Homo sapiens: one gene and its partners. The protein of the gene in region 4 purifies or fractionates together with the protein of the main gene of each other region. This does not show direct contact. Each region holds a gene or a part of one and is shown on either strand. Other genes may lie near its edges.

Evidence for each region.
Region 1: the proteins of L3MBTL1 (region 4) and ZNF195 purify together in Homo sapiens (affinity purification with mass spectrometry; 2 studies listed by BioGRID and IntAct, with this or other methods). This does not show direct contact.
Region 2: the proteins of L3MBTL1 (region 4) and SATB2 purify together in Homo sapiens (affinity purification with mass spectrometry; 2 studies listed by BioGRID and IntAct, with this or other methods). This does not show direct contact.
Region 3: the proteins of L3MBTL1 (region 4) and ZBTB34 purify together in Homo sapiens (affinity purification with mass spectrometry; one large-scale study listed by BioGRID and IntAct). This does not show direct contact.

What each region holds. Positions count from the first base shown.
Region 1 is NC_000011.10:3,357,427-3,359,786, reverse strand, and holds the end of ZNF195 (zinc finger protein 195), read left to right. Parts: coding exon 1-669; 3' UTR 670-1,860; downstream 1,861-2,360. UniProt on the Homo sapiens protein: May be involved in transcriptional regulation.
Region 2 is NC_000002.12:199,342,940-199,346,439, reverse strand, and holds part of SATB2 (DNA-binding protein SATB2), read left to right. Parts: intron 1-3,500. UniProt on the Homo sapiens protein: Binds to DNA, at nuclear matrix- or scaffold-associated regions. Thought to recognize the sugar-phosphate structure of double-stranded DNA.
Region 3 is NC_000009.12:126,863,639-126,867,138, forward strand, and holds part of ZBTB34 (zinc finger and BTB domain-containing protein 34), read left to right. Parts: exon of another isoform or gene 1-54; coding exon of another isoform or gene 55-74; intron 75-3,500. UniProt on the Homo sapiens protein: May be a transcriptional repressor.
Region 4 is NC_000020.11:43,537,503-43,543,463, forward strand, and holds the end of L3MBTL1 (lethal(3)malignant brain tumor-like protein 1), read left to right. Parts: intron 1-2,519; exon of another isoform or gene 2,520-2,648; coding exon 2,649-2,806; intron 2,807-3,250; coding exon 3,251-3,313; coding exon of another isoform or gene 3,314-3,406; exon of another isoform or gene 3,407-3,431; coding exon 3,432-3,626; 3' UTR 3,627-4,393; downstream 4,394-5,961. UniProt on the Homo sapiens protein: Polycomb group (PcG) protein that specifically recognizes and binds mono- and dimethyllysine residues on target proteins, thereby acting as a 'reader' of a network of post-translational modifications.

The sequences.
Region 1 (2,360 bases), on a different chromosome or scaffold from region 4:
AAACCTTTCAAATGTGAGGAATGTGACAGCATCTTCAAGTGGTTCTCAGACCTTACTAAACATAAGAGAATTCACACTGGTGAGAAACCATACAAATGTGACGAATGTGGGAAAGCCTATACACAGTCCTCACACCTCAGTGAACACAGGAGGATTCACACCGGAGAGAAACCCTACCAATGTGAAGAATGTGGGAAGGTCTTCAGAACTTGCTCAAGCCTTTCTAACCATAAGAGAACTCATTCTGAAGAAAAACCCTACACGTGTGAAGAATGTGGCAACATCTTTAAGCAGTTATCAGACCTCACTAAGCATAAGAAAACCCATACTGGAGAGAAGCCCTACAAATGTGACGAATGTGGAAAAAACTTTACCCAGTCCTCCAACCTTATTGTACATAAGAGAATTCATACTGGAGAGAAACCCTACAAGTGTGAAGAATGTGGCAGAGTCTTCATGTGGTTCTCAGACATTACCAAACATAAGAAAACCCATACTGGAGAGAAACCCTACAAATGTGACGAATGTGGAAAAAACTTTACCCAGTCCTCAAACCTTATTGTACATAAGAGAATTCATACTGGAGAGAAACCCTACAAGTGTGAAAAGTGTGGCAAAGCCTTCACCCAGTTCTCACACCTGACTGTACATGAAAGCATTCATACTTGAGAAAAAAATAAACAAATATAAAAATAGGCAAAGCCGTTAGTATCTGCTCGCATCCCACTTTACATCAGAGTTCAGACTTAATAAAGTTATCATAAATGTAATTACTATTGAAAGACCTTTCATGAAATATAAGTCTCCAGAGCACACAAGAGTATTTCTTCTGAAAAAAATGTTACAATTATACTAGATGGAAGACTTGCATCAGTTGCTTAAACTTTCAGAAAATTTGTAGAGAAACCCAACAAATCTCATAAATGTGGAATAACATTTGTTCAAAAATGATAGCTTAGAAAACACTAGAGTTCATACTAAAAGATATTTTGCAAATACACTAAATGGGAAAAATAAGCAAGGACACGTTCAGAAATGACACTGAATCCCTGTGTTGAGTCTACAGAGACATCTAGACTTAAAATAGATCATTTATATTTAAGTTTAAAAGGAGGATGAGACTGAGTTTTTGTAGAGTTATAATTACATTCAAAATATACTTTTTTGCATTGAAAAAATGTTAAATTTTTGAAAAGCGAATATTGATGTCATTCTATTCTCAAATCAGTAGATGCTGTGTCTTCATTTCTAGTGCTGATGTGAAAACACATGGTCAGTTGTTGCTGCGTCAGAGATATGAGAAATTCTTTTCTCTTAGGTGTGCATCACTGATATACTTGTCCGTGAAAGGTGAAAGACACTGAAATGTAAGATGCGTGAGTAAAATCTTGGTAGAGAGGCTCTTTGTGGTTGTTTTATATACTTGTAAGTGATTTATGAGATAGGTGTTTAGAATAATACTCTTCTGTTAGGGTCACCCTGATCAGACCGTTCCCTTCCCCTCCCACAGGACTTACAATACGGTCCCTTGTGCTCTCTGCACAGCTACCCCAGGGCAAAAAACAAACCCCCCTTCACTGATCCCTCCAGTAACTGTGCAGACAGTTACAGGATGCGGTTAACATGTCTGTTCACCTCGCATAACAAAGCTGGCAAAAAACATCTCCAGGATGCAGACAAGACACCTGCACCCTCGACTAAGCTCCCCCACCCCAACCCAGTTCTCCTGCACCCCCAACTCAGCTCCCGCACCCCGACCTAGTTCTGGCCCTATAAAAACCTGCTATAGTCTGTAAGCAGGGCTGCCTCCTCTAACTGTGGTGGAGCAGCCAAGCAGCTCAATAAAGCTTGCTTGCCTGACTTTGGGTCTCTTCATCCTTTCTCTTGGCTGACCTTACATTTCTGGTGCCGAAACCCGGAAAGGTGATAGAGTTCGGCCTCCCTTTCTCCCTTTCTCTTTCTCTCCCTCCTTCCCCTGGCTGAACTCCCCCTTCCAGAACCTGCTAGAGACCCAAGGATCTCATACATACTTTCCATTGCTGGCGAACACATCCAACACCAGGGCCTCCTCAGGGTTGAGTAAAGGAGACTTTCGCCTTGTGTCTGGAACCCTTGTCTGCTCTTTCCTTCCTAAAAGACCCAGCACTGGGCCAAGGGTTTCCTCCTCCTGGCCTCCAGGAGGCCCTCGATATCTCCTATCAAGGATGCCTGAACTGGGGATTATCGCACTTCTCCGACTTGAACTGTGGGACAAGGGACGCGTTCTCCCACCATTCTAGTCTCCGGCCAAGTCTCCCATCTCTACCCCTCCCTTTCTCATTCCACTATGGGAGCCTTCCAATCCCCTCCCTCAAAGACAT
Region 2 (3,500 bases), on a different chromosome or scaffold from region 4:
GCGGTGGCTCACGCCTATAATCCCTGCACTTTGGGAGGCTGAGGGTGGCAGATCACGAGGTCAAGAGATCGAGACCATCCTGGCCAACATGGTGAAACCTCGTCTCCACTAAAAATACAAAAATTAGCTGGGCGTGGTGGCGTGTGCCTGTAATCCCAGCTACTTGGGAGGCTGAGGTAGGAGAATCACTTGAACCCAGGAGGTGGAGGGTGCAGTGAGCCGAGATTGCGCCACTGCACTCCAGCCTGGCAACAGAGCGAGACTCTGTCTCAAAAAAAAAAAAGAAAAAGAAAAAAAGAAAAATAAGTTTTTGTTAATGGTTGGGATTTTCTTACTGGCCTCGTGGCAAGTTTTGTTATCTCTTATTATATATATTCTACCTTTTTATGGGAAAAACTACTCTTTTTGGTGTAAAGATATTTTTTATATTTTCTTTGCTTGTAAAGAGTTATTATCAATTTGTAAGTATAAAAACTGCAAGTATAGTTGGTAGTTGATAAGAAAGGTAGATAATAAAACTTAAAAGGGATGGACACAGATTGAAAAAGGCCTTGAGTGCCAAGACAAGAGCTCTGAACTTTAACAGGCACTGGAAACCGTCATAGGTCTTAGGTAGGAATATGCTGTGCTCCCACCATCTTAATTAGGTCTTATGGAGGTTTGATAGCAAGAGGGTAGGAATATCATTTAGCAGGCTACTGCAAGTATCCAGGTGAAATGTACAGAGGTTTTGAACTAGGCTGCTGGGGAGGGTGCAGAGAAGAAATATTTTGGAAATAAAATGGACAGAAAGTGTATAAATGGATAAAGAGAGGAATAGAACTGACACCAGGCTTCAAGCCTGATGCCTGAGAATAAAGGTGTAATTATGAAGGGAATCCAGGAAGACATGGAAAGAGTGGTTGGAGTAAGGTTAAAGTGATAGTTTTAGATTGGGTTATTTTGACGTTGAAGTGTTGACCAACTTCTTAAGTGAAAATGTGCAACAGTCATTGAAAATATGAGTTTGTGGGGGGAGGGGGGAGGGATAGCATTAGGAGATATACCTAATGTAAATGACGAGCTAATGAGTGCAGCACACCAACATGGCACATGTATACATATGTAACAAACCTGCACGTTGTGCACATGTACCCTAGAATAATAAAAAAAAAGAAAAGAAAAAGAAAATATGAGTTTGGCGCTAGGAAGAAGAGTTATCAGGACTAGAGCAAGAGATTAGAGATGTTGTCACAGAGCCTGGGACAGGAAATGGAAGAGTCAGGGGAGAGAAGGGGAGAAATCACTGCTATCACCACCACCAGCAGCAGCAGCACCAGCCCCAGGAAAGAGAGAAGAAATGCCAGGAGATGGGGGCAGGTGGAGAAGGAAGAAGAGGGAGACAGTAGTGAGAGTATAGAGGACATGCGTGGAGAGTTTCCAGAAGAAGACTTGTCTACTTGTGGAAAGCTGAGAAGTTAAGAGAGAGAGGCTTAAAACCATGTCATGAGATTTGGCAGTTGGTTGGGAGAAGACTGGCGAAGTTTAGAGTATAATTTCATTAAAGTAGTGGGGACAGGAGCCAGAATTCAGGAGTTAAAGAGTGATTAGCTGTTGAGGATGCAGAAGTAAGTACATGACACTTTCCAAAATTTGGTGTTGAAAGGGAGGCCAAAGTGGGTGGACAGTTTGGAAGTGATAGGGGGTCAATTTGAGATCACAGGATTTGGGAAGTTCACAGCATGAACTGGTGATGATACCAATCATTGTGGTTTGGTAACGGTCTTCAGCGGTGCTGGAACTTCAGGACTGGGAGCAAGGAAGAAACACAGTGGGACTGTTTGAGGTTTGGTGCTGACATTTTCGGTATGGCAGGAGGCCAAGAGAGGTAAAAATCTCTTGTTCCCTTGACTCTTAGCTAATTTATACATTCTAATATTGACAGAGTCTGTTAACATCACTTGAAAATGAGTTTGGAGGTCCTGAGAGACTCTCACATGTTCCAGACATCACTCTTCCACTTTCTCTCGTGATTCAAAGTACTCGGGCAATATTTGTGTGTCCATAGTTGTCTGGACTGGGGTTATGAAAGGCTCTGGTCCTTTTGAGAAAGTCTGTTGCATACTACTGCAAAATAAAAATTGGAAGGATCTATCTTTTGGCTCTGTATTTTGCAGTTCTCTGTCTCTGTGTGTGTGTGTGTGTTGTGTGTGTGTGTTCGTTCATCTGTCCTTCATGTGCATGAATAGGCATTTCATGGCTAGCCAACATTTTATTGCCTGGTTATGTATACAGCTCCTTTGGCTAAGGATAAAATTGAAAGCATGGTTGTATTACTTTGGATTTTAGAAGCAAATACAGTATACATTTTATCCAAGTAGCATGAAGCATGAGAGAAGACTCACAATGAGGCAAAACAAAGACAGACCATATTGGCGAGAGTGTATACTTTGCCAAGGACCTAGACTCCTGGAGGTCTGTCTTCTCCCATATAATCCTTTTTGTCTATTTTTATGGATTAATGATTTTTCTTTGGCGTTGCCATCTTTCAAGTGCCAAGTTATAAAAGGTCTAATTGAAGCATGAAACACATTTTATTATTTTCCTCCTGCCATTAAATTTGTAAGATGGCTACACCTAGAAAGAAACATTCACTTTCAATCAACATGAGCTTGAGTTCATGGGCCAGCCTTGAGGATATCAAATGGAAACTGCGTAGGAATGTATGAGTATTTCCTTTTAAAATTCTGCTTTTAATTTAGGAAAGCTTTTCATCCCTCTGGGATCATAACCTGTTGTGTATAAAGCCCAACCTAATCAAGGTAGATGGTACTGACAGAATGACATAGTTTGAACTTAAGCAGGAGGTCAGCAGGCAGATTGTTTTTTGCTGTATGTACTGTAGTCACTAACAGCCGGACTGGGCAGCTGGTTTTACCAGCAGCATTGTTAAATGGAAAATATGGTATATTATGCCCCATGAAACCAACCATAGATTTTCCAAACGTTTAGACTTTTTTGAGTGGAGTCAGATGTTTATGGATGATATAATGACTTGCCAGCTATAATAAACAAAAATAAACATTGTAGCATATCCTCAGTCTATTGAATATTTTCCAGAAATAGTTCATGATCTCTATTATTCATATATTATCAAATTCAATAAAAAGCATTTTAATACATTTTGTCACCTTATATTTTGTGTTCCTGGATTTGTGCTTCATGGTTATACCAAGAGCAAATCGTGTGTGTTCATTTTGTCACCTTATATTTTGTGTTCCTGGATTTGTGCTTCATGGTTATACCAAGAACAAATCGTGTATGTGTGTGTGTGTGTGTGTGTGTGTATAAAATAAAATAATATGTAAACATTTACAAATAAACCTGGAACTGTTAGAAAAGAAAACCCTGCCCAGTTTTTCATGTTTAAGATTTCCAGATGAAAAACTTAAATTCATAATAAATAACATTTCAAATGTCAGTTCTCCAAAGAGAAACTATTAATTACCCTGTTATGGCTG
Region 3 (3,500 bases), on a different chromosome or scaffold from region 4:
AGTTAAATTTCTAATGGTTATTTTCTGGTTGATGTTGATGGCAAGGAAAACCTCATGGAAGAATGCAAGTCAAGGTGAGCTTTTCTAATCCTTTTGTCATAAGAGGCAGGACTTAATGTATTTTCCAGGGCCAGTGCCCCTGAAATGCTAGCCAGCAGTAAGCAGATAAGATGCTGTGCCTTACTATTTTTTAGTTATTTGCCTTAAGAAAGCTTATTTTATCTGAAACAAATCCTCTCAATTAATGATTAAAATATGAAACATCTTTTTTCCTACTTCACTGACAGAAGTAAAAATAAGGGACATTTTGCAAAGAAATGACTGCAAACCACTTGAAGTACAACATATTGTGACCCCTTAATCATCACAGTGTCAGACCCAGCCTGACTTTGTCTGTGTGGTGGAACATCCTTAAATGAGAATTCTCTTTCTACTCGGAGTTGATCAGTAAGAATCCAGCACCAATAAAAATCCTGCATCTCACCAGTATGCCTGGATTAAAATCTTACTCTTATAAGAGATAAGAGTTCTGAGTCTGAGACTGACAAATCTAGGTCCAAATCCTGGCTCAGCCAGTCATTAGCTGAGTGACCTTGGGTAAGTTTCTCAGCCTCTCTGGGTTTGCTTCCTCGTCTGTAGAATGGGGATAACTGCAGCCTCTTAGTGTCGTCTAAGAGCTTACTTACCATACTGTACACAGTAGGAGCCTACTGACCGTTAGTCCTTGTCATTGCTAGTAAAATTAAAGAGGCCATTCCTCTCCTGCTTGGAAAGCTCAGAAGAAGCTTCTGATGATGTTTTGCATTGACTAAAAGACAAATCGCACCCTCTTGGAATTAGTGTATCTGAGCAGACCTGGAGAATGTTAACGCCTTGGTAGGAAATGTAACAGTTTGGATAAAAATGTTCTTTCAGGCTCACATGAATTAATGCAGTAAGAACTCTAAACTTGTTTTCTTTTAAATTAGGATGAGTGCTTCATGAATATCCATCACAGAATGCCATTTTATTTATTTTTTTTTTCTTGCATTGGGTTTCAGTAGCACCAGAATGTTTCACACAGCCCTGGTGTTATTTGACTGCTGCTTTCTAAAAGATTAGATTGTAGCTCATGACAGCTCAATTTTGGTTTTAATCTAGACCCAGGCAGAAATACCTAGAAAAGTTATTTTTATATAATTGTTACTTCTGTTACCATGCCTTTTGTCTGCGGTGCTTCAGTCTGTGGTCTTTTTAATGACTTTGTATGAAAATGAAAATTAGGGATCTTCAGGTTTCCAGTGCCTGCCAGAGAAAGCCTCGTTTGAGCTGTGTCTCAGGTATCAGCAAATGACTGAAGCCAGCAGGTGCAAATCTGGGTTTGGAATCATGAGCATCTTGATTGAGAATAATGGGTACCTCCTGGTGCCTTAAACAACTTCCAAATTTGTAACTTTCCTTTCTTTTCTTGGAAGTGTAACTGGATATTTTTAAACAAAGTGTAGCATCTTGTGGAGCAAATTAGACTGTTTATGGGTTAGGTTGGAATAAGCCACCGTGCTAGATTTTGCTGTGGGCAGAGACGATCCCGCATCTCTGGGGTCTCCAGAAGGAAAAGTTCAGAGCTGAGGGTGCGGCTGTAGTGGCAGTCCATGGATCTTGAGCCACCAGCTTGTTTTAGTTGACATGTACTGAGAGCCTCTCTGCCCCAGACACACTGCTGGGCTCTGGGCACGCAGTCCCTGCCCTCAGAGAGCTCACCGCCAGGAGTGGAAGCTCAGCAGTGAGGAGTCTCACAGAATCAGCACATTTCTAATTGTTCAGCTTTTACATTTTTACTTTTGTTCTGGTTGTTGATATGTGGAGACAGTTCCAAGGCTTTATCCAAGAAAGTTGTAGAGGAGATTTTAAGGCCCAGGTGGGTGTTTTGCCCAGATGGCATCTGAGAGTCCCTTCTTATTTTTAGGTTCTCTGCAGAATGGGTCAGCAGTGTGAGAGGATGTCATTAGTTTTCCATTGTTGCATTTCCTCACAGCTTAACAGAATACGTGGTGCAGAATTTTACTTAAAGATACTAGCCAATGGGGCCGGGCGCAGTAGCTCATTCCTGTAATCCCAGCACTTTGGGAGGCTGAGGCAGGCGGATCCCTTGAGGCCAGGAGTTCGAGACCAGACTGGTCAACATGGTAAAACCCTGTCTCTACTAAAAACACAAAAATTAGCTGAATGTGGTGGCACATGCCTGTAATCCCAGCTACTCAGGAGGCTGAGGCATGAGAATCACTTGAACCTGGGTGGCGGAGGTTACAGTGAGCCGAGATTGCACCACTGCACTCCAGCCTGGGCACAGAGCAAGACTCTGTCTCAAAACAAAACAAAAACAAAACTAGTCAGTGGAAAGGCTTGAGGAGAGGGCTAGGTGAGGATGTTACCCCCTTCATCAGGTGCTGTGTTTCCATTCCTCTTTTCTAGGAGCAAACACCCTTTCTATTCTCAGCCTTCTCTCTTTTTTTTTTCCCTCCCCGAGTAACCTCATTTTACCAAAACGATCCTCAGTCAGTACACAGTCACTCCCAAATCAGTATCTTCGGGTCTAATATTTCTCTCTAGCTCCAGCCCCATATTTCCCACGACCCCGTGAAAAACCTGAGCCCAGCTTGTCCTGGCTGAGCTACGTGGCCTCCGAGTAGACACCATGCCTCAGTCTCCAGGTGCTGCCGCCAGAATTCTGTTTGAGTTCTCTGAGTATTCAAGGCCCTCCACCTTCTGACTGTGGCCTTCTCCTTCCATGGCCTTCCTTGTCCCTGAGCTGGGGCCACTGCATGCTGCCTGCTCTACCCCAGACGCTGTTTGCATTCCCCTGTGCCCTGTTCCTGCTTTTCCTTCTGTCTGGAGTGTTCTTTTTTTTCCCTTTGAAATGCAAGGCCTTGTTCAAAAATATCTTCCTCCATGAAGTTTTCTTTTGTTCTATTTTGATTTTTTAAAAATCTTTTTGGTCAAAAGTAATCAGCCTTGTATTGTTCCTTGTAGTTCTTCGTTTCTGCCTTTATAACTGTCTGCTTGATGTAATAATTATCCATTTGCAGCCCATCTTTCTACTCTAGATTCCTTGGTTTAAAAAATTATATATTTGTAGGTACTAACCTACATGGCTTAAAAAAAAATTTTAGTGAGAATAATAGTTATGTGATTTTTTAAATGCAAAGGTATAAAATAAAGTCTGTTTCCCTTCCCTCTCCTTAGTCCTTCCCCACAGTGACCACCATTAATAGTACCACGTGGTTCCTTCCAAAATGGATACAGCAAGCAACGTAATATAATTCCTTTACAAAACGTACATGAAGGGAATGACATATATGCATACATATTAGTCTACATCTTGCTGTTTTTGGCTAAATCTTAGCACTCCTTCCATATCAAAGCATACAGATCTACCCACTCTTCTTAATAGCTGCGTAGTATTTCATTGTTGATTATATTTTTTGAAACCAGTTTCCTTTGGGGGTTCCTTTTTTTTTTTT
Region 4 (5,961 bases):
ACTCTTTAAAGGCCCTTTTTCCAAATGCAGTCCCATTCAGAGGCACTGGGGGTTAGGGCTTCAGCATATGAATTTTGCGGGGACACATTTTAGCCCATAACATACTTCAGCGGGAGGGGCATAGTGGCTGAGCCCTCCCCTAGGTGGTGAATTCATCTTACATCTTCAGCCACTAGTACAGGGCCTGATGCACAGCAGGGACGCCTCAGTTGAATGGAATGCATGTCATTTTAAGGCTAAAAGAGACCTTGAGAAATCACCTGGTTTAGTGCACCTTGGCGAGACCCAAGCTGTCCCAATTCTTCAAGAACAGTCTCTGTAACCTGGGCAGTAAGTAACATAGTGATAAAAAGCATAGCCCTGAAGTCAGACTACCTTTTACAGGCTGAGAGATCTTGGGTGGGTGACACTCCTCTCTGAGCCTCACCTTCCTTATCTGTAAAATGCTGATAATAATCGTACCCACCGTATGATGTGGTGAGAGGCTTAACTGAGATGTTCCATGTGAGGTGCTTAGCACAGCTCCCTGCCAGTATTATTAGTCTGAGTCTCTTGCCTCACTTCCTCTTGCTGTCATCTCATACTGTTTCCTCTTTGTGGGAACAGAAGCAGTTTCTTCAGCCTCAGACCTGAGTGATGAGGGTCTTGGCCAGCACCTAGACCCTCAGAGTAAGGACTCCTAAGGATCAAACTGCAGTGGGCACCTCTTGTACCCATCTGTGGTACCCATGGTCAAGTCCACTGCAGGACCAAGTTCTGACCACCAGAGGGCACTTGCCTACTGTGTTCATCCCAGAATTAGGCTGTAGAATTCTTGGGAAGCTACATCTTTCCAGAGGCTGAGACTATGTCACGGAACTGGCAAAGAAGGGCTCACCCAGATCCTTGAGGCACTTCAAGGATAGAGCAGGGGTCATTGCCCAGGTCTCACTTCCACAGGGCACCCCTGCTCTTCTAGCTGGCCTGTCACCCAGAAGAGCCACTGGTCACTCTGGGTTTTGTTCCAGAGGCAACTTCTTACATACTGGTGGGTAGACCTCCTTAGTGTAGGCTCTGAGGTTTGCTGGTGAACAATTCCATAGGAAGATCTGCCCGGAGAGGACAGGGCTTGGCTGGGCTTAGTCTTTAGGCCTAGGAGTGTCAGCTACTGAAGGAACTGAGGAGCCATGTCTGACCTGCAACTGGATGGTCTGCAGTTAGATAAGACACTGTAACTGCTGGTAAGCACTCCTGGCCTGTGCTCTTCCCTGTGCTCTGGGGAAGAAAGATAAGGAGAAAAGCTCCCTACAAACTTGATGTTGTCTCCCAAACCCCACCCCAGGGTATGAAACCCAGATACAGGGTTTCAGAGAGGGAGTACCTGGGTGTACCAGAGGCCAAACCTGTGGCCAGGTAGATGAGGTGCTAGTGGTGCTAGCTGTCATGAGAGATGCTGAGTGTGCCCCAGACGGGCCATGAGAGGAGCTGGCTGAGCAGGGAGATGGGGCTGTCTGGGGTATGGGCAGGTATTAGGATTTCGCTGATGAACAGAGAGAGCAGCAGGAAGGCAGTGGCACAGAAGTGTGGTTGGTAGGGCTGAGGATGGAATCCCAGAGGCTTTGTGGGTGAATGGAGGTGGAAAAGCCAGGCTGAAAGGCTGACACTCAGGGAGAGAGGGCAGGACAATCTGTGACCAACAGGGAGGGTCTTTGACAAGAGGGCACTTGGAGGTGCTGCATTGATGAGCATCTGGAATTAGCACCAGGAGAATAAAGAGCCAATGCTCCTGGACCATGGACAGAGGCTGGGAAAACCCCTTGGGAAAGTGGCCACATTGCACAAGGCCGGCCAAGGCTGACAGCAGTGAGTGGGGCCAGGTTTGTCAAAGCAGCCAGAGGGGGATGAAGTCCAAGTTGGCACGTGCCAGGCCCCACCAAGGGGGAGGCCAAGCTGAGCAGCATCGGTCATCAGCTCAGTACAGCTGCTTGAGGTAGGAGGTTGGGGCCAGTGATCCCAGAGGCAGACCAGGAAGCAAAGCCACAGGCAACATGGAGCTGGGGAGTGGGTCAGGGATCACCCTCTAGTGCTGGCATAGGCAGTAGTACAGACCGGGCTGGTGGAGGAAGGGGAGGAACTGGAGCTTGAGGCAATGGCAGTGGCCAGAGGGGTGGTCTTCAGCCTGGTCAGGGGGACTGTGATTCTGAAGCAGAATCACCCTGGCTCTGAGAAAGTTGGTCGTGGCCCGGAAGGACTCATGAGAAGAAGAGTAAACAGAGTGGACTTCTGACATCAAGGCTGAGCTTGTTTGGATGTTAAGGACCCTTTTGATGGTTGGCATCTAGAAAATTATGTCTTTAGAGATGCTGCAGCAGCTCCAAGAGAGTATCCTTGCAGGGCCCAGGGTGGTGCAGCCTCAGAGAGACGGGGTGAGGGTCATTCCGAATAGCTGACCTGAGAGTCTTTAAGAGAGTCACTTTACCAGCAGGAGTGAACACTGTGTGAGGAGTCAGGAGATACGGCTCACCCTCTTGACTCTACAGGCTGTCAGAAGGGGCCCGGAGTCCTGTCTACTCTGCCAGCCAGTCTCCTGAGTGGTGTGGGTATGCATGGGCTTCGGGAACAGTTTAGTCATCCTCGTTGGCCTGCCAGCCTCTGCCTCTGCTTTCCAGCCCTCACGCCCGATGTCGTGCACCAGTCCCTCTTCATGTCAGCCCTGTCGGCCCACCCTGACCGCTCACTCTCAGTGTGCTGGGAGCAGCACTGCAAGCTCCTGCCAGGAGTAGCGGGCATCTCAGCCTCGACAGTCGCCAAGTGGACCATCGATGAGGTGAGGAGCGAGGGCCCTTCTTTATCCTTCTCTTCCTCTCCTCCTCCCTCTCACCATACCCTGGTGGAAAGGCCCAGGTCAGGTAGAACCCGGTACCACTCCTGGCACTACCTCTTGCTCATCTGTCCTGTGCACAGTCCCTTCTAGCTGCCCAGTAGGGGCTGACTGAGACCCTTCCTGATAGGTCCATTATGGCAGAGGGGGCGGGGGCTGTGCTGCTGTTTCAGCCAGAAATCCAGCAGGAGAGGCAGGCTTCGGTCCCAGGCCTCAGAAGCAAGGGGCCCAACTTGGCACATCTGCCAGCATAGAAACCCTAGGATCCTTTTAGGCTGGTGAGAAAAAGCAGCATTGGCACAGCTCAGAAGCACCTAGGCTGTGGAGGCCAGCTCTCCCTACATGCCTAAGCTCTGTCCCCTGGTCAACATGTCATCTTTGGTTTCCAAGGTCTTCGGCTTTGTTCAGACCCTGACAGGTTGTGAGGACCAAGCACGCCTCTTCAAAGACGAGGTAAGGTGCAAGTGCAGAGTGGGAGACAGAGCCGGGGTCACTGTCCTTAAGACGGCAGGAAGCAGGTGCCCTCCCCAGCGTCACTTCTGCTAAGGAGGGACCCGTGTTGCCCCACCAGGCAAGAATAGTCAGAGTGACCCATGTATCTGGGAAGACTCTAGTCTGGACTGTGGCCCAGCTTGGGGACCTTGTGTGCTCAGATCATCTTCAGGAAGGAAAAGGCATCCTGGAGACAGGAGTCCATTCACTCCTCTGCTCTCTACCCACTCATTTGCTTGCCAAACTTAGCTTTGCCAGTGATAGTCAATATTAAAGTGTACTTTTTTCCCCTTTAATCCAATATAGTTGATAATTAAAGTGTATTTTGAATGACACAGATATTGTGATTTACTGCAAGGATCCTAACACACACTTAAAATCAAGAGCCAAGGAGTAGTGAGTTGTAGATAAAAAAAGAATGTCAGCTTTGGAGACAGTCTGGGTTTAAATCCCAGTTCTGTCAATTTGAGCTGTTTACTGTCTCTGAGCCTACATCTTCTTGTCTGTAAAATGGAGATAAAATGGGTTTAATGAGGTCTACCTTGCAGAGCCATTGTGAGCATTGGAAATGATGAATGAATCATACCAGAACGTCTAGTATAATTACAGTCATGCATTGCTTAACGATGGGGATACATTCTTAGAAATGTGTCACTAGGCAATTCTGTCATTGTGTAAACATTATAGAATGTACTTACACAAACCTAGATGTTATATGTATTTTTATTTACATGTATATTTTCACATGAAATACCAAATGTCACAGCATTATTACTGAATGTCAGTCATTTCCCCTACTTGATCTGCAATGCCAATATCAAGGGCCATGTATCAGGTTTCTGTATATGTTCCACTATAATCTTATGGGACCATGGTTTTAAATGTGGAATCATTGACAGAAATGTCTTTATGTAGCATATGGCTGTGTATCACTAGTATATAATAGAGCAATATTATGGAGGAATATGTAGATCCAATCACTTTACCTATACAAAATGACTGCTATGGTGGGAACACAATAAACACCAGTTTTGACTTTTAGTGCATAGTTGTCCTTAAGTAAAGAACTTTGTCGGCCGGGCACAGTGGCTCACGCCTGTAATCTCAGGACTTCGGGAGGCCACGGTGGGTGGATCACCTGAGGTCAGGAGTTCAAGACCAGCCTGGCCAACATGGTGAAACCCTGTCTCTACTAAAATTACAAAATTAACTGGGTGTGGTGGCATGCACCTGTAGTCCCAGCTACTCGGGAGGCTGAGGCAGGAGAATCACTTGAACTTGGAAGGAGGAGGTTGCAGTGAGCCGGGATTGCACCACTGCACTCCGGTCTGGGCAACAGAACGAAACTCTGTCTCAAAAAACATAAAAAGAAAGTAGTTGGCTCTTCTTGCCCTGGAAGAGTGTCTGTATCCAAGCCCAGCACAGCCAGTTTCCTCCTTTGAGCTGTGTGTGGTGGAGCTCCCAAACTCCTCCCACTTCCAGGTGCTTTCCTTGCCCTCTGTGTTGGTGATCTTCTCTTCATGTACGTGTCCAGAGCTGAACTCCCTGTTTTCGATGGCCTCTGGCCAACATAGAACACACCGGGGTGCTGCTCCCCTAGAAGTGTTTTAATTGAGATAAAATGCCTATAGAGAGATAGGCACACATCTTGAAAGTACAATTTCACAGGTTTTATGACATGTCTGCCCTTGAACTCAACATTTCAATCAAGGTACAGACATTTCCTCTCGTGTTAAGTCATACAAAAAAAATTTAACAAAAAAAAAAAAAAAAAAAGAAAAGAAAAAGATACAGACATTTCCCTCATACCAGAAAGTTCTTTCTCAGCCCCTTTTAGTCAGTCCGCACCCCAAAAGACAACCACTTTTCTAATTTCTAGCGTCATAGATGAGCTTTGCCTGTTCTGGAACTCATATAAATGGAATCATAGAGCATGTACTCTTCTAGGTCTGTCTCTGCACAGTGTCATGTTTTTGAGGCTTCTCCACGTTGTTATCTGTATCTGTAGTTTGTTTATTGCTGACTGGTGTTCCATTTCATGAGTATACCATAATTTCTTGTTAATGGTCAACATTAGGGTTATTTTCTCTTCCCCTAGATTTGAACCCTATTTTTTTGTTAGCAAAACTTAAGTTTGCCCTAGCTTTATTATAGCCACATCACACTAGTTTGGGGTTCATAAAAGCCCCCAGGTGGTTTTCATGTCAACTACAGTCGAACCAAATTTTCCAGTGAGTACTTGCACCACTGAGTTTTTTTTTTTTTAATAACCTCATGTAAAACTTTACATCCACCCTATTAAATGTTATCTGGTTGGTTTCATAGCCTTGTTTTAAATCTTGATTCTGTCATCTACGATGTTAATAAGGCTTTCCAACCTCATACAGCTTGCACATTTGATAACTAAGCCTTCTGTGTCTTTGTCCAAGTCTTAACATGTTTTATGAGAAGGCAGAACCACGTGGCACGCTGTTTCAAACCTTTCTGTCGGTTGACCACAGGTCTTCGAATGTAGTTGTTCAGCCAGCTGCAGAGCCACCCAAGTTTCATCCTCCAGCCTATGCTTGGCTTTACATTCTCTTCTTCTTGTGACAAGGGCTGTGTCTCCC